Linked DNA regions of Homo sapiens: all the other regions are linked to region 2. The links come from fine-mapping of genetic effects on gene expression. A gene starts in region 2. Each other region holds a variant in brackets. All regions are shown on one strand. Distances are from middle to middle.

Region 1 (8,516 bases), 50 kb before region 2:
ATCACGGGGAGGGGGCGTGTCCCTGTGGGGGGGTGACAGCAAGGTCATCACGGGGAGGGGGCGTGTCCCTGTGGGGGGGTGACAGCAAGGTCATCACGGGGAGGGGGCGTGTCCCTGTGGGGGGGTGACAGCAAGGTCATCACGGGGAGGGGGCGTGTCCCTGTGGGGGGGTGACAGCAAGGTCATCACGGGGAGGGGGCGTGTCCCTGTGGGGGGGTGACAGCAAGGTCATCACGGGGAGGGGGCGTGTCCCTGTGGGGGGGTGACAGCAAGGTCATCACGGGGAGGGGGCGTGTCCCTGTGGGGGGGTGACAGCAAGGTCATCACGGGGAGGGGGCGTGTCCCTGTGGGGGGGTGACAGCAAGGTCATCACGGGGAGGGGGCGTGTCCCTGTGGGGGGGTGACAGCAAGGTCATCACGGGGAGGGGGCGTGTCCCTGTGGGGGGGTGACAGCAAGGTCATCACGGGGAGGGGGCGTGTCCCTGTGGGCGGGTGACAGCAAGGTCATCACGGGGAGGGGGCGTGTCCCTGTGGGGGGGTGACAGCAAGGTCATCACGGGGAGGGGGCGTGTCCCTGTGGGGGGGTGACAGCAAGGTCATCACGGGGAGGGGGCGTGTCCCTGTGGGCGGGTGACAGCAAGGTCATCACGGGGAGGGGGCGTGTCCCTGTGGGGGGGTGACAGCAAGGTCATCACGGGGAGGGGGCGTGTCCCTGTGGGCGGGTGACAGCAAGGTCATCACGGGGAGGGGGCGTGTCCCTGTGGGGGGGTGACAGCAAGGTCATCACGGGGAGGGGGCGTGTCCCTGTGGGGGGGTGACAGCAAGGTCATCACGGGGAGGGGGCGTGTCCCTGTGGGGGGGTGACAGCAAGGTCATCACGGGGAGGGGGCGTGTCCCTGTGGGCGGGTGACAGCAAGGTCATCACGGGGAGGGGGCGTGTCCCTGTGGGCGGGTGACAGCAAGGTCATCACGGGGAGGGCTTATCTTCCTCCTGGTCCCCTGGTGCCCCCTCCTGGGGGATGACAGTTCAGCATTTCCAAGAGTCTTGGCAGGAAGGCCGCCCCCAAACCAGTCCTTAGGAAGGAGAAAACCGTTGGGCTGAGGGTAGAGGCTGCAGCAGCCCTGGACACCAGAAGGGGGCAGAGACGGGGCCTCCTGGATGCCATCCTCACCCGGTACCCACCAAGCCCTGGAGCTCTACAGAGGGAGGCCTAGGGGCGCAGATTCTAGTGGGCCATCGCTGCCCAGCCATCTCTGAAGCTCCCAGTTCTCCAGGCAGCCGGATTTCCCCTTCTGGTAAACTGTTCCCAAGGCCTGTGCCGGTTCATGCACCCAGCTGGGTCCTGGGCCTTCTCCTGGTGGGCCTGCCTCAGTGTGCTTCCCTGGGCAGGTGGGTACTCCGCTGGCAGATGCCCTTATGACCTGAAGGTCTCAAGGCCAAGGTGGAGCACGCTGGACCTCTCAGCAGGAGCTGCCAGCTGGAGGAAGCAGACAGGGAGGGGACACATGGCCCAGCTCTGAGAAAGCCTGAGATGGGGGAACATGACGTCGGGGCTCCTGGGAGCCTCGTCTACTTCAGCAGGGGTCTTTAAAAGGCCAACACTCCCTACACAGGAGGAAAAACCGAGATTGCAGGCGAGGGCAAGGTTGGAAGGGCGTCGGGTCAGACGGGCCTCTGCTCCCCACCTTGGCTATGGCCTTCCTGTGCACTCTGCCAGCAGGGACCCCACTGGACTCAGCTCCAGCGGGTGGACAGGAACCAGCTTGTGGTGCCAGACACCAACACCATTTGCTTCTGATGCCTGACCATGGGCAACTCTACTCCCTCCATCTGGCTGAAGAGCCAGAAGAAGTTCTGTGGAAAGCATCACACGCGAGCATCGAGGTGGGCCTGGAGGGTGGTGGGGGCATGGCTGCCATCCTCTCTCGCCCTTCCACTTGGAGCCGAGGCACCGGCAGTAGAGTCTGGTTATGAAGAGGGCGGTGCGTTCAGACTGCTGTTTTCCACACATGTCATGAAGAACAAGCTCAGCAGCATCCAGCAAACTTACATGCTGGACAGGCTGTGTGTGGGCTGTGGCCTTCAGGCAGGGAGCATGAAGTGAGGTAGCCCTAAGCCCAGCTGGGCCCTCTCAATGTGTTCTCCTCACCAGCGCCTTCTGCTAGGCAGCGAGGTGCAGCTCCATGGCAGGTGTACAGCACCTTAGCACACGGAGGTGAATGTCAGCAAGGCGGGCCTGGACAGCACACCGTACCTCACTGTTCTCAAGGTGGGCACCACCGTTGGCTGGGTACAGGGTGGACAGCACGCCCTACCTCACTGTTCTCAAGGTGGGCACCACCATTGGCTGGGCACAGGGTGGACAGCACACCGTACCTCAGTGTTCTCAAGGTGGGCACCACCCCTGGCTGGGTGCAGGGTGGACAGCACGCCCTACCTCACTGTTCTCAAGGTGGGCACCACCATTGGCTGGGCACAGGGTGGACAGCACGCCCTACCTCACTGTTCTCAAGGTGGGCACCACCATTGGCTGGGTACAGGGGAATGGGCAGGCTGGAGGCCTCGCTTCACTGAAGTCTTCACTTCACGGGTAGATTTCATTGAAATCTACTAGCATTATAGAATTTTTGGAGTAACCTATGAAAGACAAAATTATGTTGGAAGGCCGAAGCGGGAGGATCATTTGAGTCCAGGACTTTGAGACCAGCCTGGGAAACGCAGTGAAACCCCATCTCTACAAAAAATACAACAATCCCAGCACTTTGGGAGGCCGAGGTGGGCGGATCAAGAGGTCAGGAGATTGAGATCATCCTGGCTAACATGGTGAAACCCCATCTCTACTAAAAAAAAAAAAAAAAAAAAAAAAAAAATTAGCCAGGCGTGGTGGCGGGCAGCTGTAGTCCCAGCTACTCGGGAGGCTGAGGCAGGAGAATGGCATGAACCCAGGAGGCAGAGTTTGCAGTGAGCCAAGATCGCGCCACTGCACTCCAGCCTGGGCGACAGAGCGAGACTCCGTCTCAAAAAAAAAAGAAAAATGAGCTGGGTGTGGTGGCGGCATGCACCTGTAGTCCCAGCTACTCAGGAGGCTGAGGTGGGAGCAATTTTCCTTCTTGAACCCGGGAAGTCGAGACTTCAGTGAGCCCAGATGGTGCCATTGCACTCCAGCCTCGGAGACAGAGACACTGTCTCAGAAAAAAAAGGTACCAGCAGGAAACAAAATCCTGTGCACTGAGTAGTTCTCCAGGATATGAACTTGTTGGTTCATATAGAACCTGCTATGAACCAAAGTCCAAAATTAGATGTGGTTTCTCCTAAAGAATGTGTCAATTCATAAAAGTGGGAATCACTCCTGTGACTGTCTCTCATAATTGGTTCAAAAACATTTGCTTTTCTCTCTGCAACTTTGTATATTTTTAAATTAATTAAATCTTTTTACTATATGTGTATTTATCCTATTTCATCTCGGGTTTACCTTGATAATTTGTTCCTAATGAAATATTTATTCTGCGTTTGTAGTATTCCATAGTTTCCACGTTTTTAGGTTTTCTGGGCAGTCGACATGGAAGATTTATGAGGGTAGGGCTTTGGTGTCATCAGTGAATGACCAAGAGTTTTCTTTTCTTTTCTTTTTAAGAGACAAAATCTTGCTCTGTCATCCAGTCTGGAGTGCAGTGGCATGATCTTGGCTCACTGTAACCTCCGCCTCCCAGGTTCTAGCAATTCTCCTCCCTCAGCCTCCCGAGTAGCTGGGACTACAGGTGCCTGCTGCCATACCCGGCTAATTTTTTGTACTTTAGTAGAGACGGGGTTTCACCATGTTGCCCAGGCTAGTCTTGAACTCCTGAGCTCAGGCAATCCACCTGCCTTGGCCTCCCAAAGTGCTGGGATTACAGGCGTGAGCCACGGTGCCCAGTGACCCAGAGTTTTCTCTGTTGTAGCATGACAAATATAAGGATAGCTGATATACTTAATACTCATTTTTATTGTGTGAGTCAAATGAGTTATTGCATCTAAAGGAAACCAGTGAAGCATGCCATTTGACTTTGGATTATTTCAAGACAGCACACTGAGCCCACATCCACTGTTTCATTAATATTTAGATAGGACAGAAAAGCAAATGTTGATAAGAACAAATACTACACCACTTAATAAATAATGAATGGTATGAATAATGGAAATTTGATGAATCAGATGAATCAGTACTTATTTAGTTCATACAATGTGTTAGTCATTATTCTAAGTGATTTATACCTATACACTTAATACCTAATCGTTTAACATGTATAACACAATGATTTATGGAGAATGACACATTGATAATCATATTAGGTGGCATTAAAACCATAGAAATAAAAATGTTCTGGTATATAACACAAATGAACACAGGAAAGTTAAATAACTTGATTAAAAAGTGTGACTTCAATAGCAAAGACATGGATTCAACCTAAATTCCCACCAACAGTGAAGTGGATAAATGCCCATCAACAGTGAAGTGGATAAAGAAAATGTGGTACATTTCTTTACCATGGAATACTATGCAGCCATAAAAAAGTGAGGTCTCCCTATGTGTCCTAGGCACTGGAGTGCAGTAGCTATTCACAGGCACACTTCAGCCTCAAACTCGTGGGCTCAAGCAATCCTCCCACCTCAGCCTCCCAGATAGCTGAGATTTCGGGTGTATGTCGCCATGCCTAGCCCTGGGAGTTTTGCAGTAACACCCATTGAAGTGCACAAGGCGATGACCTTTATGTCAGATCTTTCAAAATAGTTCAAGTAACAACGGTCATCCCCAGTTATGTTCTCATGTGTTTCACGGTGCTACAGAGAGATGTTTCTGCTGATGGTGGCCACGTGGTTGAGTTCTGATCAATGAGACTTAGAAAGAAGTGCCTGGGGAGAATGGACTTCTGTAAATTAAAAAGCAATGGCTTCCAACCTAATTCCCCATGACCTATCAGCTTACTATTTCCTCCTGGTTGCTGTTTGGAATGTGGTTTGATGCCTGGAGGTGGGACAGCCAACTTGGACCATGAAGGAATAAGCATGAACACAATAACTAAGCATAGACAATGTCAGAGAGAGAACATGAAAACAAACTTGTATCTCATAAGATCACTGGACTATTTCATCAATCATGGGCTGCTACCTCTTCAACAGTGTACATGAGACACAATACACATATTATGTTCTTTTTTTTTTTTTCTGAGACGGAGTCTCGCTCTGTCACGCAGGCTGGAGTACAGTGGCGCGATCTCGGCTCACTGCAATCTCCGCCTCCCGGGTTCATGCCATTCTCCTGCCTCAGCCTCCTGAGTAGCTGGGACCGCAGGCATCCACCACCACGCCCGGCTACTTTTTGTATTTTTAGTAGAGATGGGGTTTCACCGTGTTAGCCAGGATGGTCTCGATCTCCTGACCTTGTGATCTGCCCGCCTCGGCCTCCCAAAGTGCTGGGATTACAGGCGTGAGCCACTGCGCCCGGCCTACGTGAGCCGTTTTTTGTTAATAGCTTTATTGGGATCACACACGTATCGAACATTGGTTTCCTAAATTAGCAAATCGACCATTTCCTCAGGTTATTCCAAGTTCTTCCAAGATGCGTCAGAAGCATTCTCTGGAGGCAGTTGTTCCAAATGGTGAAGAGTACTAGATGGATCCCAATCTCACAGGATTCTTGCTTCTATTGCAGAAGAGTTACTTTCCAGGACTTCAAAGGTTTAGAGAAGCTGCTTGATTCGTGTGGCTTGCAGAGGTGCATGGGCTTTGGAGTCACGAAGTTAATCCTGAGTCCCAGCCCAGCCTCTTAGTAGCTGTGAGGCTTTGCACAACTTCCTTGTCTTGGAAAGTTATATAAACCTCATCTGCAAGAAAAGGCATGATACTGATTGCAAAAATGGCAGCAACTCTTCATCCCTTCCTGTATTTATGCCCTTTGTGATGTGCTTTTAGCTGGGAC[T/C]ACAGGCACCCGCCACCACGCCCGGCTAATTTTTTGTATTTTTAGTAGAGACGGGGTTTCACCGTGTTAGCCAGGATGGTCTTGATCTCCTGACCTCATGATCCGCCCGCCTCGGCCTCCCAAAGTGCTGGGATTACAGGCGTGAGCCACTGCGCCCGGCCTACGTGAGCCATTTTTTGTTAATAGCTTTATTGGGATCACACACGTAAAATTTAGCCATTTAAAATGAATGATTTTGTGGCTTTTTTTTTTTTTGAGACAGAGTCTCGCTCTGTCGCCCAGGCTGGAGTGCAAAGGTGTGATCTTGGCTCACTGCAACCTCCACCTCCCAGGTTCAAGCGATTCTCCTGCCTAAGTCTCCTGCGTAGCTGGGATTACAGGTGCAGGCCACCACATGTGGCTAATTTTGTATTTTTAGTAGAGACAGCGTTTCACCATGTTGGCCAGGATGGTCTTAAACTCCTGACCTTGTGATCTACCCGCCGCGGCTTCCCAAAGTGCTGGGATTACAGGCGTGAGCCACCACGCCCGGCTCTGATTCTGTGGCTTTTAGTACATCCACAGAGTTGCCCAACCATCATCACAGTCAATTTGAGATGATCACCCCATAAAGAAATTCTGCATCCTGTAGCAGCCAACTCCTTTCCCCCCAGCCTATGCAACTTTCTGTCTAATCTACTAATCTACTTTCTGTCTCTATTTGCCAATTCTGGACATTTCATATAAAAATAAAATCACGCAATATGTGGGGTTTGTGTGTGTGTGTATGTGGCTTCTTTTACTTAGCCAAATACTTTCAAGGTTCATTCATGTTGTAGTATGTATCAGCATTTCATTCCTTTTGTTTTAGAGACAGGGTCTCGCTCTGTCACCCAGGCTGCAGTGCAGTGGTGTGATCATGGCTTACTGCATCCTCGACCTCCCCAGGCTCAGGTGATCCTCCCACCTCAGCCTCCCAATAGCTGGGACTACAGGCACACACCGCCATGCCCGGCTATTTTTTTATTTTTTTGCATTTTTAGTACAGACGAGCTCTCATCATGTTTCCCAGGCTGGCAACTCCTGGGCTCAAGTGATCCACCTGCCTACGCCTCCCAAAGTGCTGGGATTACAGGCATGAGCCACAGCGCCCGGCCTTCATTCCTTCTTATGGGTGAATAAGATTTCATTGCAAGGATAGACCACATTTTATCCTCTGACGGACACTGGAGACTTTTTCACACATTGGCTGTTACGAATGCTGCTGCTGTGAACATTTGTGTACTAGCTTTTTTGTGGATGTTTTAATTTCTCTTGTGTATCTGTACCTGGGGGTGGAGTTTTTGGGTCAAATGGTACCTCTATGTTTGAATTTTAGAGGGGTTGCCAGACTGTTTTCCAGAGTGGCTGCGCCATTATGCAATCCCACCAGCAGGGTGTGAGGGTTCCAATTTCTCCGTATCTTCACCGACACCTGTTTTTGTCTTTTTTTTTTTTTTTTTTTTTTTTTTTTTTTTGAGGCAGAGTTTCCTCTTTCGCCCAGGCTGGAGATCTCCACTGACTGCAACCTCTGCCTTCCCGTTTCAAGGGATTCTCCTGCCTCAGCATCCTGAGTAGCTGGGATTACAGGCGTCTGCCATCACACCCGGCTAAATTTTGCATTTTTAGTAGAGACGGGGTTTCACCACATTCGCCAGGCTGGTCTCCAACTCCTGACCTCGTGATCGGCGCCGGCGCCGATTAAAGGCGCCACCGCACCCAGCCATCTGTTTATTTATTTCATTTTAGTCATCCTACTGGGAATGCAGTGGTATCTCATTGAGTTTTTGGTAACAACTTTATTGAGAGAGGATTCAAACAGCATAGAATTCACCCATTTAAACTACATGCAGCAATGTGGCTGGATCTCATATTAATTAGTCCAAGTAAAATAATCCAGATAAAAGTAAGGACATTTGAATAAAAGCTATTTTCACTGGGGAAAAAAAGTAAATATTGTACAATTGTATTCATATAAAATTCTAGAAAATGTAATAGTCCAGGCACAGTGGCTCACACCTATAATTCCAGCACTTTGGGAGGCTGAGGTGGGCGGATCATGAGGTCAGAAGTTCGAGACCAGCCTGACCAACATGGTGAAACCCGTCTCTACTAAAGATACAAAAATTATTATTATATTGTACCCTATTTTAAATATCATATATATTATTCACAAATGAATGTAACATTGTATACAAGGTTAAGTGTATATAAATGAATGTCCCCTAGGCAAGGCTGGGTCCCAACCCAGAGAGGAAACCCTCTTGGAGAAGAGCTGTAGCCAGAACGCTGCCTCATTCAGACACGCGCGGGAGCTGTCACCTGTCACTAAGAGTCTGAGGGGGCGGGGCCTGAGGCCCTACCCAATCAGGGGCACCGGGGCGGGGACTGCCTAATCCGGCGCTCCGCTAGAAAACCCGAGGCGGCTTCCGGGTGTGCCCGGCCTTTGTCTCTCGTGCCCGCACGTGCGTGTCTCGGTCAGTAGCCCTGCGCTTCTCCTTCACTCTCGGCGGTTCAGGAGGCTCTGCCGCAGCCGGGGCC
Region 2 (11,217 bases):
GGTGGGAATTCAATTCACTCATTTTGGAAAGCAGTGTGGTGATTTCTCAAAGAAATTAAAACAGAACTCCCATTCAACCTAGCAATCCCATTTATTGAGTATATATCCGAAGAAATAGAAATCATTCTACCATAAAGAAATATGCATGCATAGGTTCACTGTAGCATTATTCACAAATGTGTATATACCACATTTTCTTTGTCCAGTCTACTGTTGATGGGCATTTAGGTTGATTCCATGTATTTGCTATTGTGTACATGTACCCCTGAACCTAAAATAAACATTTACAAAATAAGCAGAATACATATACAATAAGAGTAAAACACATATAAAAGAAATCTGTGTCTTAAATCTTATGTAAAAAGTCTCTAAGGGCACACCAGCAAGTTGGATAACATTGATGAGGTGAACAAATGTCTAGAAACACACAGTGTACCAAGAATGAATCATGAAGAATTAGAAAATCTAAACAGACTCACAGTTATATGACATTGATGTAGTAATCAGAACCCCTAAATTGGACAGACACTACAACAAGCTACAAATGTTCTTTATAACTATTAATGCAGAAATCCTCACTTAAATACCAACAAACCATATTTAGCATCATACTAACGCAGAAATCCTCACTTAAGTACTCACAAGCCATATTTAGCAGCACAGTAAAAGGATTATACACCAAAACCAAGTGAGATTTATCCCTAAAATAAAATGGTTCAATATATGAAAAATCAATCAGTGTAATGTATGACATTTGCAAAATGACTGAAATATCGTAGCTATTGCAACGGATGCAGGAAAAGTATTTGGCAAATTATTAAGACCCACTCATGATAAAAATACACAATAAACTAGGACTACAAGGAAACTACAGTATGAAAAACCAGCACTAACATCACCATCAATGCTGAAATACCAAAACAAACAAGCAAAAAAACCCTTTTCTCCCAAGATCAGGAAAGAGCGGTAGAGAACCTCTGCTTTTATCACTCCCATTCAACACAGTATTGGAAATCCTGGCCACAGTGATCGGGCAAGGTTGCTGTACAGATTTAGCATTAATGTGCCAAATGCAGGCAACAGAAAACAGCACAGACTTACCCACTCTAACAAATTCTTCATCCTGCAGGAAACAAACTGATGTTTTGGTTAATTTTTGTAATTCACCAATTTATGTACCACACTTTTGTGTGTGGAAATGTATTCACTTTCTGTAATCATAAAGGAAGAGAGATTTTTCCTATTTCTCTTCCCTGGTAGCATTCCTGATTAAAAGCCCTAGAATTTCATTTGAAACTACCCAAAAGAAGAGACGAGACCTCAAAAAGTTACCACATACACTCAGGGGAATGAAAATAAAATATATCAAAAAAACTCTTCTAAACATTGGCTTGGGCAAAGAACTCATGACCAAGAACCCAAAAGCAAATGCACAAAAACAAAAATGAACAAATGGCACCTAATTAAATTAAAAAGCTTCTGCACAACAAAAGAAATAATCAGCAGAGTAAACAGACAACCCACAGAGTGGGAGAAAATCTTCACCAACTATGCATCCTACAAAGGACTAATATCCAGAATTCACAAAAAACTCAAATCAGCAAGAAAAAATTCCATCAAAAAAGTAGGCAAAGGACATGAATAGTTCTCAAAAGAAGATATACAAATAGCCAATAAATATGAAAAAATGCTCAACATCACTATCAGGGAAATGCAAATTAAAACCATAATGAGATACCACCTTACTCCTGTAAGAATGGCCATAATCATAAAATAAAAAACAATAGATGCTGGGATGCTGGTGTGGATGTGGTGAACAGGGAACACTTCTACACTGCTGATGGGAGTGTCAACTAGTACAACCGCCATGGAAAACAGTATGAAGATTCCTTAAAGAACTAAAAGTAGAACTACCATTCAATCCAGCAATGCCACTACTGGGTATGTACCCAAAGGAAAAGAAGTCATTATATGAAAAAAACACGGCTGGGCGTGGTGGCTCATGCCTGCAATCCCAGCACTTTGGGAGGCTGAGGCAGGTGGATAACCTGACATCAGGAGTTCGATACCAGCCTGGCCAACATGGCAAAACCCTGTCTCTACTAAAAATACAAAAAAAATTTAGCTGGGCGTGATGGTGCATGCCTGTAGTCCCAGCTACTTGGGAGGCTAAGGCATGAGAATCCCTTGAACCCAGGCGACGGAAGGTTGTAGTGAGCCAAGATCGTGCCACTGCACTACAGCCTGGGTAACAGAGTGAGACTCTGTCTCAATTAAAAAACAAACAAACAAAAACACTTGCACACGCATGTTAACAGTAGCACAATTTGCCACTGCAAAAATATGAAACAAACCTAAAATGCCCATCAACCAATGAGGGGATAAAGAAAATGTGGTGGAATACTACTCAGCCATAAAAAGGAATGAAATAATGGGCTTTGCAGCAACTTGGATGGAAATGGAGGCATTATTCTAAGTGAAGTAACTCAGGAATGGAAAACCAAATATTCTATGTTCTCACTTATAAGTGGGAGCTAAGCTATGAGGTTACAAAGGCATAAGAATGATATAATGGACCTTGGTGATTTGGGGGCAAGGGTGGGAGGGGGTGAGACTGCATATTGGGTACAGCGTACACTGATAAGGTGACAGGACCAAAATCTCAGCAATCACCACTAGAGAGCTTATCCTTGTAACCAAAAACCACCTGCTACCCCAAATGTATTGATATAACATTAAAAATTTTTTTAATTAAAAAACTAAATATATATATAAAGTGGATTTAAAATATCTACATATATTTAAAATATCCACTTCTTTCTTTGCCTCTTTGTAAATATTTTATCTTTAAAGCTCTATTGATGAAATACATTTTATGTTTACCTAAGGCACCAATAAATGAACAAAGCTTTGCAAGAGGACAGCCCAGGGAGGAGCAGCGCTAACTGGAACACAGATATGTTTGACTCACATGTCAAGTAAGACCATCTCTCAAGCAGGAGATTCCCTGGTCCCCGGTCTCCTCATTGGAGAGACCACGTACTCAAGGACCAACCTCCCAGCGCAATGCACTGTGGCCCACTGTGTGCCTAAGGTGCAGTTTGCTTGGCAGGTTTTTGTGTCATCTTCCTGGGAAGAAATTTTCTTGTTCTTTAAGGTTGTTTTTCTCCCTTCACAAGTGTGAAAGAATCCAGAGGGCAGGAATCATTTCTGTCTCTCCCTCAAAATACCAGCATTGGATTGGATGACACCAGTGTCTCTCCCAGTGTCCCCACTGTGTCCTCCCACCCCATCCTGCTCAGGGAAGTACTCAATGCCCACCCTCCCCCAGAAACCTGTGCCGTGTCCCCACTGTGCCCCAAATGCATTTTGCTTTTCAGGTTCCTGCCTCACTGCGGGGCGGGGTTTCCTTGTACTTTGGAATAGCTGTTCTCCCTTCACAAGCATGAGACAATCCAGAGGGCAGAAATTCTTTCTTCCCTCAATACCAGTATCCGACTGCCTGACCAGCATTTTGTCTCTAAGGAGTGATAACGGGGGTAAGAGAAGAAAAAAAAATCTAAGTCCTAGTGGATTAGCTTTTTAGAGGAAGAGTATAGAAGAGTATCCCAGGAGACTCCTCTCGGTCCCAGGGGATTCATGCCATCCAGCTGCTCCTCTGAGAGGCTCCACCCCTAAACCTCACCTTGTCTTCTGGGAGAAGAGGACCCAACAGCTGACATTCACTATTTATGACACTCCAAGAGACAGGGCCAGTGTGGGCACATTAGGTCATCCTCAAACAGTTTTGAACCCAGGACCCAGAAAAGACAGGAGGGTGGCTGAGGACACAACACCACGTGAAGGTTCCAAAGGGAAACCTCCATCCAAAGACGTTTGTGAGTGTGCCTAGGGAAGACAAAAGGAGGAGAGGTACAAAGAATTTTTTATAGTGGACTAGATCAGGTGATTATTCTCTGTTTTCACAAGGAATGTTCAGAAACAGCTCCTCACTGCTCAGTGAAAACATGATAAACAATTACATTACTGCATCTGGTTCAAATGCACAATAAAGAACAAATAATTAATAATGTTGTAAATTGGAGAGGTGAAGTTGGAGTTTGAGAGTATGAGGAAGAAACTGGAAATTTAGAATTTTACTGCAAGTTCTAGAAGTTAGGCTGGGGAATACGGTCATGGATTTGAGACCCTGCTTGCCTTACATTTGGGAAATGCAGGGGAAACCAGTACCCTTGTGGAAATAATTAAATAGGAAGAAATTAGACTGAAGTTGTAGCAGGGCAAGCTGCAGACAAAACCCCTCAGACACCGAGTTAAAGAAGGAAGGGCTTCATTCTGCCGGAAGCTTTGGCAAGACTCACGTCTCCAAAAACCCAGCTCCCCAAGTGAGCAATTCCTGTCCCTTTTAAGGGCTTACAACTCTAAGGGGGTCCACGTGAGAGGGTCGTGATCGATTGACCAAGCAGGGGGTACATAACTGGGGGCTGCATGCACCGGCAATCAGAACGGAACAGAACAGGACAGGGATTTTCACAGTGCTTTTCCATACAATGTCTGGAATCTATAGATAACACAACCGGTCAGGTCAAGGGTCAATCTGTAACCAGGCCCAGGACGCGGCGCCGGGCTGTCTGCCTGTGGATTTCATTTCTGCCTTTTAGTTTTTACTTCTTCTTTCTTTGGAGGCAGAAATTGGGCATAAGACAATATGAGGGGTGGTCTCCTCCCTTAAGTGATGATGGTGCCCTGAGTTCCTCACCAAGAAAACCTAAAGGTACTTCATGCCTTTCTTGTAATTAACTTGAAGGGAAAGAAAACTTAACCCCAAATCAGCAATTTACCTCTGATTACATAACCAGGAACCATCCACCTAAATAATCCGAATAACAGAACTACATAATTATAACCAATCAGTTATTAAATTGGGGTTGCTTTGGGCTGGGCGGGGTAATCCCAGCACTTCGGGAGGTTGAGACCAGAAGTTCAAGACCAGCCTGGGCAACACAGGGAGACCCCCCCCCCGCCCCACCCGATCATTAAAATAAAAAATAAATAAATTTGGTTTGTTTCCTTACACACTTTACAGAAGCCTTTCCATCAAGACCGTCCGGTGGCCCACAAACCAAAAACCGTGGCTGGGTGCTCCCCTACTCATGAATCGCTGTTTGCTCAAACTCTGTAACGCTTTAATTAAACCTCAGTTTAATTTTTAACAGGATTAAGGAGGGACTGGAAACGCCAGTGGCCACAGCTCCTCGCAGGCGCGAGCCCGCACACCGCGCTGGGCCTCTCCCCTGAGGCGCCTCGGGTCTCACTGCAGGATCCCGAGGAGCCGCGGGGCTGCGGGCGCGGGCCGGGGAGGGAAGCTGCTTCGGGCAGGACGGAAGTCGCGGTGCAGAGACGGGACCGGAGCCCGGGGTGCCGCTGCCCGCCCAGCTCTGCCGGGCGCCAGAAAGGACCGAGGGCCGCGCCGCGCCGCGCCAGCAGGGACCCGGGTCCGCCCTCGGGAGCCGACCGCTGGGAGCCCGGGGCCCGGGGCCGCCACAGCCCCTTCCCTTCTCCAGACCCCCGGCGGCGCAACTCACCATTTCCCAGCTTCCGGGGTGTCCCGACATCCTCCCTGCGAATCCCCCAGTACATGCAGGTCACAGGAGGGCCCCGGCTGCGGCAGAGCCTCCTGAACCGCCGAGAGTGAAGGAGAAGCGCAGGGCTACTGACCGAGACACGCACGTGCGGGCACGAGAGACAAAGGCCGGGCACACCCGGAAGCCGCCTCGGGTTTTCTAGCGGAGCGCCGGATTAGGCAGTCCCCGCCCCGGTGCCCCTGATTGGGTAGGGCCTCAGGCCCCGCCCCCTCAGACTCTTAGTGACAGGTGACAGCTCCCGCGCGTGTCTGAATGAGGCAGCGTTCTGGCTACAGCTCTTCTCCAAGAGGGTTTCCTCTCTGGGTTGGGACCCAGCCTTGCCTAGGGGACATTCATTTATATACACTTAACCTTGTATACAATGTTACATTCATTTGTGAATAATATATATGATATTTAAAATAGGAAACAATATAATAATAATTCTTTTAAAATTTCAGACTTATTAACCTTCATGGCCTCTGGTCTTCTGAGGAAGCAGTCTGAGGAGCCCGAGTTTTGAAAAGGGAAGCAATCCTCCAAGGCTGCGATTTCCACAGAAATCACATGTGAGCCACAGGTGTCATTTTAAAATTTCTAGTAGCAACAGAAACGAGGAATAAACAGGTAAAATTGATTGCAATACTTTATTTAACTCAATATATACAAAATATTATAATTTAAATATATGATAAATATAATATTAATGAAGTATTTTTTGTTGTTCTGTTTTTTGGTACTAAATCTTTCAAAGTCACTCTGCGTTTTAAACTTCCAGCATGTACCGATTCAGACCAGCCACATTCTAGGTGCTAAGTAGACCCCTGTGGGCAATGACTGTCACACTGAAGTGCAGTTTTGAGGGCTCTGGTTCCCCTGACCTCAGGGAGTGAAGGGCCCGAACCCCTCTTTTCTGCTAGAGGTGAGGGAATGCCCTCCTTCTGCTAACATCTCTCCTCAGGCCCAAGGGTGGCAGAGACAGTGCCCAGAGAGAGAAGTGGGCTGCAATAAAGAAGTATCTAGAGGGAGTCTACTATTTCCCACCTGCTCTTGCCAGGGGCCCAGCCTCTTCTATAGATAAGACAGTGAAAAAAAGATGAGGGGCCCCAGGAGAAGAAAACCCATGTCTTCAGATTTGTCCACAGCCTTAACCTCAGGACTTTAGATGTAGAGGGAATACATTAAAGACAAACTTCTCATTTTGCAATTTGGCTTTGGCCCTAATGGTCAGGCTGTGGTTTTCTGTTTCCTCCTGTGGTGTGGAATTTAAGTGTGTGAGTTTAAGCACAAATCACATGCATGTCTACGTGCACTTCTGTATGGCTCAACACCGTCTAACCAGAAATCCAACTTTACATAAAGGGAAAAGGAAATCAGTACATACAGGGTGCCTTGTGTTTGCCTGGTAAATTGCAATCAACATGTCATTGAATCCTGGCATCCTGTCTGCACTAGGTGTACGTATTACCTATTGCTTCACAGTAAAATTCCCCAAAACGTATTAGATTGAGCTGGTCCACCTTCTAGGCTGGGCTCAAGTGAGCCATTCTTCTGGTCTCTGCTGGGCCCTTTCAGGCACGTGTGGTCAGCTGCTGGTTGACTAGGCAATGCTGCTTCTGAGGGTGAGCTGCCTGTCAACTGTGGCACTTTGGTTTTCCTCCCTATAGTATCTCATCCTCTAGCAGGCTAACATGGACTTGTTATTATGGAGATGACAGGGTTGTGAAATAAAAAGCAGAAGCATTCAAGAGCTTTTGTGCCTCGGCCCCAAACTGGCACATGGTCATATTCACAGCTTTCTACTGCCAGAGCAAATAAGGCCAGTGAGATTCAAGGTTTGGGAAACAGATTCTGCCTCTCAATGAAAGCAGCTATAAAAGCACATCACAAAGGGCATAAATACAGGAAGGGATGAAGAGTTGCTGCCATTTTTGCAATCAGTATCATGCCTTTTCTTGCAGATGAGGTTTATATAACTTTCCAAGACAAGGAAGTTGTGCAAAGCCTCACAGCTACTAAGAGGCTGGGCTGGGACCAGGATTAACTTTTCGTGACTCCAAAGCCCATGCACCTCTGCAAGCCACACGAATCAAGCAGCTTCTCTAAACCTTTGAAGTCCTGGAAAGTAACTCTTCTGCAATAGAAGCAAGAATCCTGTGAGATTGGGATCCATCTAGTACTCTTCACCATTTGGAACAACTGCCTCCAGAGAATGCTTCTGACACATCTTGGAAGAACGTGGAATAACTTGAGGAAATGGTCGATTTGCTAATTTAGGAAACCAATGTTCGATATTACATATTTTTTATTTCTTTTCATAGGATAAATTTAAAAGCACAGATGACGCACTCCACATGAACGCAAATCCTATTCATCCCTTTTTGTTGTTTGTAGGCTATTTATGATTTTCAACAAAGACTAAATCAAACCACTGTGTCTGAAATAACCTCTTACTCTGAAAGCAAGTGACATGAAAATAGACCTGCTGAGAAAAATTTCTTCCTGCTGCAATTTAACGAAACAGCTGACTACAATTTGAAGCCATTCTTTGATTTTTTTTTTTTTTTTTTTTTTTAAGATGGAGTCTCGCTGTGTCATCCAGGCTGGAGTGCAGTGGTGTGATCTCGGCTCACTGCAAGCTCCGCCTCCCGGGTTCACGCCATTCTCCTGCCTCAGCCTCCCGAGTAGCTGGGACTACAGGCGCCGGCCACCATGCCCGGCTAATTTTTTTGTATTTTTAGTAGAGATGGGGTTTCATCGTGTTAGTCAGGATGGTCTCCATCTCCTGACCTCGTGATCAGCCCGCCTCGGCCTCCCAAAGTGCTGGGATTACAGGCGTGAGCCACCGTGCCCGGCCCATCCTTTGATTTTTAACAAGGCAAGCTTGTTTTCCAAGACCTCAAATAGATCATGTGAGTGTCAGGGCTACTATATTGACTCAGAAGGTGGACCATATCCTCTGTTTGGAGATGGAGTGGTGAGAGGGCCTGCACCAGCATGTGAAGACCTTAGGTCCATAGGTGAGATTCAATCATCAGGTGTGGTGTTTTAGGGTCCTGATGTTTATGCAAAAGTTATGTGTATATTACTAAAGGTAAATTGTAGAACATTACAAATAATCATATATAAACCAAAAATGTCAACTACAATTGTCATTATGCATTATTATTCTAAGTATTTTTACCACAATTAGAAGTAGTAGCAGTTGTTGCTGCTGCCGCTGCTGTTGTAGGAATGGAGATGAAAACATGGAATAAAGCTCTGCTGCCTGGTCATTCTGCTGCTCCTACGGCTGCAGATGTGCTAGTTCTGCGCAGACTTTAGACTTCTGTTGTGAAGCTGTAACTTAAGAGACTTTCAGTGCTCTGCTGTGGCAGGAAAAAAGTTTGAGTCAAGACAGAACAACAATTCTGTGAATTTGAAGGTGGAGGGTAGGATGGTTCTGGGGCGCAGTTGAAGGGGAAGAAGTACACATCACTGAATGAAGGAGTGGAAGCCTATGGTGAATGGCAGGGTTTGGCCATGAAGCAAATCAGATTTGGATTTTACGGACGGTCACTCAGTGAAACTGACACACCTGCAAAGCGGGAAATGGAGGACGAATAAACAGGTGATGTGTTCCAGCAGCAGACAGGAGGGCCTTCTAAGAACACACCTGCTCCTTTACCCAGGACCTCTTCCTACAACTCCAGCAGACATTCTCATGTAGAAACCCACAATGTGATTTCATCACATTCTGACTCCACATTCTGACACCACATTCTGACTCCACATTCTGGCTGGTACAGTATCCTTTTCTCCATTCTCTTATCTTCCCCTTCCTCATTTCATTATTGCACATAAAGCATCTGGGGTAGGCACACAAGCATATTGCTATTTTTGTTTGCTTGTTTGTACTAAATGACATGTGTTGATCCGCAGCCAAATGAGACGGGGCAGAAAAATACTGGCCCCGTGAAGACTGTTTCTCCACCAGTGGCTGCTCACTCAGCTCTTATCTCTGTATTTCAGGACTTAAACAACAATAACAAAAAACCATAATACCCTTGCATAGATTGTTCAATTGGTGAATTTCAATGTTTTTAATATAGCATTGTAAAACCAAAAACAATTTCATAACTTTTTTATCTACGTAGTTGTTACACATAGGGCAAATCTGTATATAGGACTATGTATATAGGACTATATATATACGCGTGTGTGTATGTGTATATATATATAGTCCTATATATAGCATATAGCATATATATTTATATATGTATCTATACTATATACATATGTATGCATGTATACTATATACATATGTATGCATATATACATATATACTATATATACACATATATAGTATATATACACTACATATATACTATACACTACATATATACATTACTATATATGCTATATATATACACTATATATATAATATATATAAACCTATGTATATAGGACTAAATGACACTTGAAAGAATGAATCTCAAATACTTTTCCCTTCAAATCCACTGTCTGTTTAAGTATACATTTTGCATATAATGAAAAAATACATAAAAATTAAAATGTAAGGTTTATCTCACTATCCAGTGTATCAGTTGGACCAAAAATGAGGAAAAAGAGGCATCTTGTCTGCAGGAAGTTCTCAATTCTCCTGGGACCCCCGAACCACCTGCGCCCCCCAAGCAGACCCCGTTCTTGGCCTGTTGCCAGTGGCAGTGCATCCTGATGAGGCTTCCACGTCTTGGCCCAGGAGGCACAGGGAGGGTAGGAGGTTGTCTGTCTCACAGCCAGGCCAATATCCCTGACCCAGGACCCTCTGGAAGAAGATTCCCAAGGTCCCCGTCAGCTTTTGGAAGGGTTATGCCATTCTAGAGAAATTATAAATGTTCTTGGGGGTTGACCCATAGGTGAGCTGGGCATCCCTGTGCTCTTGGGAGCTGGAGCAGGCAGGAGGCCCATCCTCCTGGGCACAGCCGCCATGGCTGCAGACCCAGGCATCTCTGCACTCTGGAGGGCTCAGGAAGGTTCCCCCACCCCCACAGGCTTGGAAGTGCTCGCTCCCACTGTCTGGCTTCTCCTCACTCTTGGCATCCACTCCAATCACAGAGAAAAGGGGAGTCTGGGCCCACGCACCTATCAACCCATCACCTAGGTATTAAGCCCAGCATGCATTAGCCATCTCCTCTTTGACTTTTAACATGAAATTCTCATGATCATTTTATGTTATCAATGACCAGTCATAGGTTTTAAAATGCTGGCTGTTACTTGTGTATAATAACAATGACATTTTTATTAATAAAACAAAACACGGGATACTTTTTTTTCAAAGAACACATTAATTGCATGTAAAATTGCTTGTGGATTTGTGTAAATGGTTTTTCATTCTAGTACACTCCTCTTTTCTTCAGAGGTGTCGATTAAGCTCAAGACTTTATAATCAGTCTTTCGTTTCTTGTTCATTCAATGGTAAATTTTTCCCATCATTATTCATAATTATGTAAATACCTGGGACTTACAATATTTAGAATAGTCCGAGGTGAAAGCCAACATAAGGATGAACTTGATCTGCATTATCTGTTTCCTGAGAGGGCTCGGGAGCTTC
Region 3 (11,217 bases), 33 kb before region 2:
TCTCACGCAGACCCCCTTAGAGTTGTGAGCCCTTAAAAGGGACGGAATTGCTCACTCAGGGAGCTTGGCTTTTGAGACGCAAGTCTGCTGAAGTTCCCAGCTGAATAAAGCTCCTTCCCTCTTTAACCCGGTGTCTGAGGAGTTTTGTCTGTGGCTCCTCCTGCTACAAAAGGAATTGCTAACTAGAATAACCAGTTTAGAGAAGAACACAAATGACCTGGTGGACCTGAAAAACACAGCATGAGAACTTCATGAAGCACACACAAGTATCAACAGCTGAATTGACCAAGTGGAAGAAAGGATATCAGAGTGTGAAGACCACCTTACTGAAATAAGACATTCAGAAAAGATGAAGACTGCCTTACTGAAATAAGACATGCAGACAAGAAGAGAGAAAAAAAAATGAAAAAGAATTAACAAAGCCTCCAAGGAATAAGGGACTTCATAAAAAGACTGAACTTATGATTGACTGGAGTACCAGCAGGAGACAGGGAGAATGGAAACAAACTGGAAAACACACTTCAGGATATTAGCCAGGAGAACTTCCCCAACCTAGCAAGACAGGCCAACATGCAAATTCAGGAAATACAGAGAACACCATTAAGATACTCCTCAAGAAGAACAACCCCAAGACACATAATCAGCAAATTCTCCAAGGTCAAAATGAAGGAAATACTGTTAAGGGCAGCCAGATAGAATGGCCAGGTCACCTACAAAGGGAAGCCCATCAGACTAACGGTAGACATCTCAGCAGAAACTACAAGCCAGAAGAGATAGGGAGCCAATATTCAATCAATATTCAATATTCTTTTTTTTTTTTTTTTTTGAGATGGAGTCTCACTCTGTCACCCAGGCTGGGGTGCAGTGGTGCGATCTCAGCTCACTGCAACCTCCACCTCCCAGGTTCAAGCGATTCTCCCACCTCAGCCTCCCAAGTAGCGGGGATTACAGGCATGCACCACCATGCCCGGCAAGTTTTTTGTGTTTAGTAGAGACAGGGTTTCATCATGTTAGTCAGGCTGGCCTCAAACTCCTGACCTCAGGTGACCCACCCACCTCGGCCTCCTAAAGTGCTGGGATTATAGGCATGAGCCACGGCGCCCAGCCTCAACATTCTTAAAGGAAAGAATTTTCAACTCAGAATTTCATATTCAGCCAAACTAAGTTTCATAAGTGAAGGAGAAATAAAATCCTTTCCAGACAAATGCTGAAGGATTTCGTTACTACCAGGCCCGTGCTGCAAGAGCTCCTGAAAGAAGCACTAAATACGGAAAGAAAAAACTGGTACCAGCCACTGCAAAAACACACCAAAATATAAAGACCAATGACACTATGAAGAAACTGCATCAACTAATGGGCAAAATAACAAAATAGCATCACGACAACAGGATCAAATTCACACATAATAATAATAACCTTAAATGTAAATGGGCTAAAAGCCCCAATTAAAAGACTTGGACTGGCAAATTGGATAACGAGTCAAGACTCATCAGTGTGCTGTATTCAGGAGACCTATCTTATGTGCAAAGACACACATAGGTTCAATATAAAGGGATGAAGGAATATTTACCAAGCAAATGTAAAGCAAAAAAAAGGCAGGGATTGCAATCCTAGTCTCTGACAAAACAGACTTGAAACCAACAAAGATCAAAAAAGACAAAAAAGGGCACTGCATAATGGTAAAGGGAACTATTCAACAGGAAGAGCTAACTATTCTAAATATATATGCACCCAATACAGGAGCACCCAGATGCATAAAACAAGTTCTTACAGACCTACAAAGGGAATTACACTCCTGTGTAATAATAGTATGAGATTTTAACACCCCACTGTCAGTATTAGATCAATGAGACAGAAAATTAGCAAGGATATCCAGGACTTGAACTCAGCTCTGGATCAAGTGACCTAGTAGATGTCTAAAGAACTCTCTACCACAAATCAATAGAATATACATTCTTCTCAGTGCCACATGGCACTTATTCTCAAATCAACCACATAATTGGAAGTAAGACACTTCTTAGCAAATGCAAATGAACTGAAATCATAATAGTCTCTCGGACCACAGTGCAATCAAATTAGAACTCAGGATTAAGAAACTCACTCCAAACCACACGATTTCATGGAAATCAAAAAACCTGCTCCTGAATGACTGCTAGGTAAATAATAAAATTAAAGCAGAAATCAAGAAGTTCTTTGAAACCAATGAGAACAAAGAGACAATGTACCAGAATCTCTGGGACACAGCTAAAACAATGTTAAGAGGAAAAATCATAGTACTAAATGCCTACATCAGAAAGCTAGAAGCAAGAGCAAACTATTCCAAAAGCTAGCAGAAGACAAGAAAGAACTAAGATAAGAACTGAAGAAGACAGAGACACAAAAAACCCTCCAAAAAAATCAACAAACCCAGGAGCTGGTTATTTGAAATAATTAACAAAATAGACCACTAGCTAGACTAATAAGAGAGAGAAGAATCAAAAAGATACAATAAAAAATGATAAAGGGAGTTATCACCACTGACCCCACAGAAATAAAAACTACCATCAGAGAATACTATAAACACTCAATGCAAATAAACTAGAAAATCTAGAAGAAATGGATAAATTCTTGGACTCCTACCAAGACTAACCCAGGAAGACGTCACATCCCTAAGTAGACCAATAACAAGCTCTGAAATTGAGGCAGTAATTAATAGCCTACCAATCAAAAAAAGCCCAGGACCAGATGGATTCACAGCAGAATTTTACCAGAAATACAAAGAGGAGCAGATACCATTCCTTCTGAAACTATTCCAAACAATTGAAAAGGAAGGACTCCTCCCTAACTCGTTTTATAAGGCTAGCATCATCCTGATACCAAAACCTGGCAGAGACACAACAAAAAAAGAAGACTTCAGGCCAATAACCCTGATGAACGTCAATGCAAAAATCCTCAAGAAAATACTGGCAAACTGAATCCAGCAGTACATCAAAAAACTTATTCACCACGATCAAGTTAGCTTCATTACTGGGATGCATGGCTGGTTTAACATGCAAATCAATAAACATAATCCATCAGATAAAGAGAACCAAAGACAAACACCACATGATTCTCTCAATATATGAAGTAAAGGCCTTCAATAAAATTCAACATCCTCTCATGTTAAAAACTCTCAATCAACGAGGTATTGATGGAACATATCTCAAAATAATAAGAGCTATTTATGACAACCCCACAGCCAATATCATACTAAATAGTCAAAAGCTGGAAGTATTCCCTTTGGAAACTGGTATAAGACAAGGATGACCTCTCTCACCACTCCTAAGTTCTGGCCAGGACAATCAGGCAAGAGAAATAAAAGGGTATTAAAATAGGAAGAGAGGAAGTCTGTTTGTAGATGACATAATTTTATATTTGAAAAACCCCATCATCTCAGCCCCAAAACGTTTTGAACTGATAAGCAACTTCAGCAAAGTCTCAGGATACAAAATCCCTGTGCAAAAATCACAAGCATTTGGTTACACCAATAGGCAAGCAGAGAGTCAAATCATGAATGAACTCCCATTCACAATCACTACAAAGAGAATAAAATACCTAGGAGTACAGCTAACAAGGGATGTAAAGGACCTCTTCAAGGAGAACTACAAACCACTGCTCAAGGAAGTAAGAGAGGACACAAACAAATGGAAAAAATTCCATCTTCATGGATAGGAATAATCAGTATCACAAAAATGGCCACACTGCCCAAAGTAATTTACAGATTCAGTGCTATTCCCATCAAACTACCATTGACATTCTTCACAGAATTAGCAAAAACTATTTAAAATTTCATGTGAAATTGGCCAGGCACAGTGGCTCATGCTTGTAATCCCAGCACTTTAGGAGGCCAAGGCGGGTATATCACTTGAGGTCAGGAGCTTGAGACCAGCTTGGCCAACATGGTGAAATTCCATCTCTACTAAAAATACAAAAATTAGCCAGGCGTGGTGGTGTGCACCTATAATCCTTGCTGCTGGGGAGGCTGAGGCAAGAGAATCACTTGATCCCAGGAGTTGGAAGTTGCAGTAAGCCAAGATCATGCCACCGCACTCTAGCCTGGGCAACAGAGTCAGACCCATCTCAAAAAAAAAAAAAAATTATATGGAGTCAAAGAAGACCCAATATACCCAAGACAATCCTAAGCAAAAAGAACAAAGCTGGAGGCATCATGCTACCTGACTTCAAACTATACTACAAGGCTACAGCAGCCAAAATAGCATGCTACTGGTACCAAAACAGATATATAGACCAACGGAGCAGAACAGAGACCTCAGAAATACCACCACACATCTAAAACCATCTGATCCTCGACAAACCTGACAAAAACAAGCAATGAAGAAAGGATCTCTGATTCAGTAAATGGTGCTAGGAAAACTAGCCAGCCATATGCAGAAAATGGAAACTGGACTGCTTCCTTATACCAAAATTAACTCAAGATGGGTTGAAGATTTAAATGTAAAATCCAAAACCATAAAAACCCTAGGAGAAAACCTAGGGAGGCCAGGTGCAGTGGCTCGTGCCTGTAATCCCAGCAGTTTGGGAGGCCAAGGTGGGTGGATCATGAGGTTAGGCATTCGAGATCAGCCTGGCCAACATAGCGAAACCCTGTCTCTACTAAAAATACAAAAAAAAAAAAAAAAAAAAAAAGAAAGAAAACCTAGGGAATATCACTCAGGACATAGGCGTGGGCAACTTCATGGCAAAAATGCCGACAGCAATTGCAACAAAAGCAAAAACTGACAAATTGGATCTAATTAAACTAAAGAGCTTATGCACAGCAAAAGAAACTGTCCTCAGAGTGAACAGGCAACCTACAAAATGGGAGAAAATTTCTGGAATCTATCCATCTGACAAAGGTCTAATATCCAGAATTTACAAGGAACTTAAATATATTTACAAGAAAAAACAAAAAACTCATCAAAAAGTGGGCAAGGGATATGAATAGACACTTCTCAAAAGAAGACATTTATGCATCTAACAAACACATGAACAAAAGCTCAACATCACTGATCATCAGAGAAATGCAAATCAAAACAATGAGATACCATCTCATGCCAGTCAGAATGGTGATTATTAAAAAGTCAGGAAACAATAGATGTTGGTGAGGCTGTGGGGAAATAGGAACGCTTTTACACTGTTGGTGGGAATGTAAATTAGTTCAACCATTGTGGAAGACAGTGTGGCGATTCTTCAAGGATCTAGAACCAGAAATACCATTTGACTCAGCAATCCCATTACTGGGTATATACCCAAAGGAATATAAATCATTCTACTATAAAGACACGTGCACACGTATGTTTATTGCAACATTATTTACAACAGCAAAGACATGGAACCAACCCAAATGCCCATCAATGATAGACTGGATAAAGAAAATGTGGTGTATATATATATGTGTATATATATACCATAGAACACTATGTAGACATAAAAAGGAATGAGATCATGTGCTTTGCAGGGACATGGATGAAGCTGGAAGTCATCATCCTCAGCAAACACAGGAACAGAAAACTAAACACTGCACGTTCTCACTCATAAGTGAGAGCTGAACATTGAGAACACATGGAAACAGAGGGGGAACAACACACACCAGGGGCTGTTGGGGGTTGGGGGGTGAGGGGAGGGAACTTAGAGGACAGGTCAATAGGTGCAGCAAACCACCGCGGCACATGTATACCCATGTAACAAACTCACATGTTCTACACGTATCCCGTTTTCGTTTGTTTTAGAAGAAATAAAACATAAAAATTCTGGACTAATTTAAAATGAACAATTCTCCGATCAATCACATGGCAATTCCTTGCCCCAAGAGTGCAGAGAAAGAAAGGTACATACATAGACCCAAAACTTACTAGAGTAGAAACCCATAAGCACATCTTCATGAACCAGTACATCTGTAGGAAAATTGAAAGTGTAATTGGCAAATTGTTTAAAGCTGAGTGTGAACATGATTGACAGTAACAAATAACTGGAAATGTCAAGCTGGGAACTGCTTAGGGCAAACCTGCCTTCCGTTCTACTCAAAGTTAACCCTCTGCTCACTGAGATCAATGCATATCTGACTGCCTCATTTTGGAGAGGCTAGTCAGAAACTCAAAAGAATGCAACCATTGTCTCTTATCTACCGATGACCTGAAAGCTCCCTCCCGACTTCAAGTTGTCCTGCTTTTGCTTTGAGTTGTCCTGCCTTTCTGGACTGAAC[C/T]GATGTTCATCTTACATATGTTAATTGATGTCTCATGTCTCCCTAAAATGTGTAAAACCAAGCTGTGCTCCGATCACCCTGGGCACATGTTGTCAGGACCTCCTGGGGTTGTGTCATGGATGCGTGTCCTCAACCTTAGCAAAATAAACTTTCTAAATTACTGAGACCCATCTCAAATTTTCACGGTTCACACCACTATGTAATACCCTTGTTGTTTTAAATCTTTATTGGTTTAAATCTGTTTTGTCAGAAACTAGGATTGTAACCCCTGCTTTTCTGTTTTCCATTTGCTTGGCAGATTTTTCTCCATCTCTTTATTTTGATCCTAGGTCACTGCATGGGTCTCTTGAAGGCAACATACCATCAGGTCTTGCCTTCTTATGGAGCTTGCCATTGTGCGCCTTTTAAGCAGGGCATTTAGCCTGTTTACATTCAAGATTAGTATTAATATGTGTGGATTTGATCCTGTCATGTTGTTAGCTGGTTATTATGCTGACTTGTTTGTGTGGTTGCTTTATAGTGTCACTGATCTGTGTATTTAAGTGTGTTTTTGTATTGGCTGGTAGCAGATTTTTCTTTCTATATTTAGTGCTCCTTTCAAGATCTCTCATAAGGCAGGTCTGGTGGTAATGAACTCCCTCAGCATTTGCTTGTCTGAAAAGGATCTTATTTCCCTTTCACTTAGGAAGCTTAGTTTGGCTGGGTATGAAATTCTTGGTTGAAGATTTTTTTCTTTAAGAATGTTGAATATAGGCCCTGAGTCTTTTCTGGCTTATAGGGTTTCAGCTGAGAGGTCTGCTGTTAGCCTGATGGGGTGACCTTTGTAGGTGACCTGCCCTGTATAGCTGCCTTTAACAGTCTTTCTTTTATTTTGACCATGGAAAATCTGATTATTGTGTGTCTTGGGGATGATTTTATTGTGTAGAATCTTGCAGGGGTTCTCTGGTTTCCCTGAATGTGACTGCTGGCCTCTCTACCAAGGTTGGGGAAGTTTTCGTGGATGATATCCTAGAATGTTTTCCAACTTGTTTGCTTTCTTCCCATCCCTTTCAGGGATGCCAATAATTCATAGATTTGGCCACTTTACAAAATACCATATTGCTCAGAAGTTTTGTTATTTTTTATTCTTTTTAATTTTTCTGACTGTCTTATTTCAGAGAGCCAGTCTTCATGTTCTGAGAGTCTTTCCTCCACTTGGTCTATTCTGCTGTTAATACTTGTGACTGCATTATGAAATTCTTGTAGTGTGTTTTTCTGCTCTGTCAGAACCATCAGGCTCTTTTTTATATCAGTTATCTTGTCTTTCAGCTCCAGTGATTCTTAGTTTTTTTGGATTGGGTTTTGCATTTTCCTGAATCTTGATGATCTTAATTCCTATCCATATTCTAAATTCCATTTGTCATTCCAGCCAGCTCAGCCTGAGTAAGAACCCTTGTTGAAAAACTGGTGTGGTCATCTGGAGGACATACAACACTCTGGCCATTTGAGTTACTGGAGTTCTTTCATTGGTTCTTTCTCATGTCTGCAGGTGGGTGTTCCTGTAACTGCAGTGTAGATTGAGTACAGTCAGTACACTTTTTTTTCTGGATGTCTTCGCAGAGCCAAGGCTTTGTGCAGGGTCTTCATTTGTAGCTGACTTGTCTTTGGTCTCACAGAGGGGAATGCTAGCAAGGTGTTTTTGGTGTTGGAACTTCGGGATGTGATCCAGTAGGTGGTGCTTAGGCATACTGGTTAGTTGGTAGGCTCTTGCTTGGTCATGTGGCTCCCCTATATTTTCTGACAGTTGCAGTCATGCTCCCTCTCAATGTTCTGAAAGTGTGGGCTTCTCTCCCACTTGAATGCTGGCTATAAATTGTGGCTTGGCACTCTTGGGCTGCCCACCACAGCTCTGGGGCACTCTCAGGGCTTATGTTCCTCCCCTGGCTTGGAGGCAGCAGAGGAAGGGACCTTAATAGTGGTTGTGGCCAAAGGTCTTTTGCTTGTCTCCTGGGGGCTCCACCCAAGAGGAGCCGGTTAGCAATTGCTAAGTGCAATCAGCCCAGAACGGAGGGTCTGTGCTGTGGGACCAAGCCCAGGGTTTCCTATCTGGTGACAAGCAGGGGGAGTGGGTGGAACCTGTGGGAGATGAACTGGTCTCCTCTCCTTGGGTCAACTGCAGTTTGTTGTAGGTGTGGATAAGGCACTTATGGTATTTGTTCATTCATTTGTCTGAGGATAGCAAGGGCAGTTCCACTGCAGACAGCGGTAGCAAGGCTTTTGTTTGCTCCTGGGGGCTCCACCTCCAAGAAATGCAGAACCATAGTTACTGGGGGTGTTCAGCTGGTGGGTGGGGCACCTGCACTGCTGGCATAAGCTTGGGGTTCTGCTTGTTGGGGAGCAATGGGATGAAGGCTCACAGGGAGAAAAGACTAGTCTCTCGGTATGGTGGCTGTGGTGGTATGCTGTTAAGCTTGGGTGTAGCTCTCAGGTTCTTTGTTTCTTCCCCAGACCAAAGGCAGCAGGGATAGAACTATTACTGTGGCAATGGCAGAGGGGCTGTCATATGCCTCTGGGAGCCTCTCCATGGGGAAACTCTGGGCCACTACTGGTGGGTATGCTCAGCCATGGGAGAGGTGACTGTTCTGTGTTCATGAGCTGGGGGCCCTACAGCAGCAAAACTGAGAAGACCTGTGATGCCTGCCATAGTGGATCCCCAAGGGTCCGCACTGGGTGCAGCAAGCAGCCCATATCTCAGTCCCCAGGAGACCACCTGCTGCCAGTTCTGAAAAGCCTGGTGACCTCTATGGTAAGTCTGAGGCCATTTATCAAGACCTAGTTCAGACACAAGCACAGTAGGTCCATTCTCTGCTGACCTGGGAGCAGCTCTCTTAGCTTGCCAGCTCTGGGGGCCTCTGTGCTGCAGTGCAGAACTTCTACACCATGGACTCCCAGGTGGCCTGGGTTCCCTGCTGAGGGCTGGGAATCTCAGCCACCCTGACTTGTGCCAGGGTCCAGCCCTGGCTGGAGAAGTCCAGAGCTCCTTCTGGGAGAAAGATAGGACCAGCCCTTTTTTGGACCAAAGGTAACTCAGCCTATCTATAGATGAGATGAAGCTTGACCTGGGGGTCTCCTGACCCTATTCAGCAAAGAAAACAGGTCTGGGAGTGAAAACAAAGACTTGCTGCTTCTCAGATTCTTCTGGATGACCAGCAGTGACAACTTTAGACACACCATGTTAATAACAGAACCTGTGGTGGTTGTAGAAAAGGAATTTGAACAATATACTGAAAATGGTAAACCCAGTTTTCTTTAAGGCTGATTACTGACAAATTTTGTATTTCATATAAGACATCTGATGTCTTTTGGCTGTCTTATGACAGTCATGCATTTCTGTAAATCAGAAAATATTATTAGGGTGTAATCATTCATATATGTTTGTATATTAAAAAGAGTAGCAAAATGAATATATATTTATATCTTCCCCACTTGAACTCAGAAAAGGCTGTAGCTCTTCACTCTCCCAGGCCGAGTCCTCAGAAGATTGATATTCACCAACCTTTAATAGCATTCTCTCTGGAGAAATGCTTCTATTTTTTCAGTTTGATGAAATCACCATGCCATTGTTTTTACTTTTCATTTTCTTACACAGAATCTAAGACAAGGTATATTAAATGCTTAATGATCCTATTCTTCACCTGGCTCATATCATTTACCTAATTTTAAACTTTCTTCTACTCTAAAAATTTCAATTCATCTTATGTATTGTAGAAGATTTTAAATCTAATACAGGTATTGTCTTTTTTTTTTTTTACATATATTCTATTGGCATTTTACACTGGGATCATGGAATATTTCATTATGTAAATTATTTAATTTTTATGTAGAAAAAAGAAAATTATTTTGGTGTTTGTTTTGTTCTTTGCTCTATAATTTCCATTACATACTGATTAGATAATTTTTTGAGTATTTTAAATTTTAGGTAATTATGCATTTTATCCATAAAGAATCTGCATGTGAGAGAGAGAGCTATTTTCTCCTCACTTCTATTTCATCTCCATCCTGACCTCCCCAGAATCCTCAGCTCTTTGTGTAGTTGGATAGCAGTTTATAATTCCAGTAAATGGGCCTAATTCAATAATATACCACAAATCAGTTTGAAACCAGGACATGCCTTCAAGACACACCCAAATGCCTATATATATAATAATACTAAGTTACAATTGATGTAAAAAATAAAATTACAAAAGGATTGTTAAAGTAAATTCAAAGGGACATCAGGCCTAAAAAATCCCTGAGGAAATGTGTGATCAGAGGCTTTCCCAGGCACACACTGCTCTACAGCCCTACCACACAGGCTTAACCGAGAATTTGACCCCGGAAGGTGACGGATGAACATGTGTCCTGGTATTCTGATCTACAGAAATCCTGCCCTCTCTTAATGATCCATCCAGAGCTCTAGGATCGTTTCTAGATTTATTTACTACACACAGACTGGAAGTTTTTGACAGAAGCTTTGAACTGGGAACCCTACCCTGTTCCACCAGCTTCTCTAGAAGTACAATGTTCTAATTACTCCTGAGAGACTCCATCTGAGGGTAACTCTCTGAGCCAACAAGATTTAAAGTGAGAAGAGGAAAAAGGCAAGAGTCGGGCTATGTCTAGGATTCCCTTACCTGACTTATGTCTTTGGTTTACCCAAGTATTGATAAGATTCGTCTCTAGATGGTAGAAACTAGATGGAGGAGCACTAGCTCACAGAAGTAGACAATGGGATCAGTGCTCCATAGATCCAGCTTAAGCTCAGCCATGAGATACTAAGTCTCTCAGAAAAAAAAGTAACAGTTCTCCATCATCTACCCCCGTAGCCTCAGACAGCTAGGCAGTAAGCATGCATGCTCAATAAAACTCCACATCCACATCACAGAGAGAGATAGAACAATCCCAAAGGACCGTGAAGGGTGATGTGGAGAGACCAAAAGGATATGAACCCACAGCATCTGCCCTACCATCTGCTCCAA

Evidence for each region. PIP is the estimated chance that this variant, and not a neighbour inherited with it, causes the effect. A credible set is the group of variants that fine-mapping cannot tell apart.
Region 1: its variant is the best candidate, but not a certain one, in a credible set for the expression of ZNF124 in minor salivary gland (GTEx, PIP 0.83).
Region 3: its variant is the best candidate, but not a certain one, in a credible set for the expression of ZNF124 in whole blood (TOPMed, PIP 0.56).

The regions. Positions count from the first base shown.
Region 1 is chr1:247,118,010-247,126,525 of GRCh38, forward strand. It overlaps the pseudogene FGFR3P6 and a transcript of ZNF124 not described here. Among named protein-coding and RNA genes, the nearest start is that of LINC02897, 9.9 kb to the left of the region's middle. The variant T/C (reference allele first, on the strand shown) is at 5,958.
Region 2 is chr1:247,166,263-247,177,479 of GRCh38, forward strand. It overlaps ZNF124 (zinc finger protein 124), which reads right to left and starts at 5,758. Exons shown (of 4, transcript NM_001297568.2): 1 at 5,586-5,758. The coding sequence starts at 5,615. RefSeq lists a silencer at 9,225-9,519.
Region 3 is chr1:247,132,846-247,144,062 of GRCh38, forward strand. It overlaps a transcript of ZNF124 not described here. Among named protein-coding and RNA genes, the nearest start is that of LINC02897, 26 kb to the left of the region's middle. The variant C/T (reference allele first, on the strand shown) is at 6,221.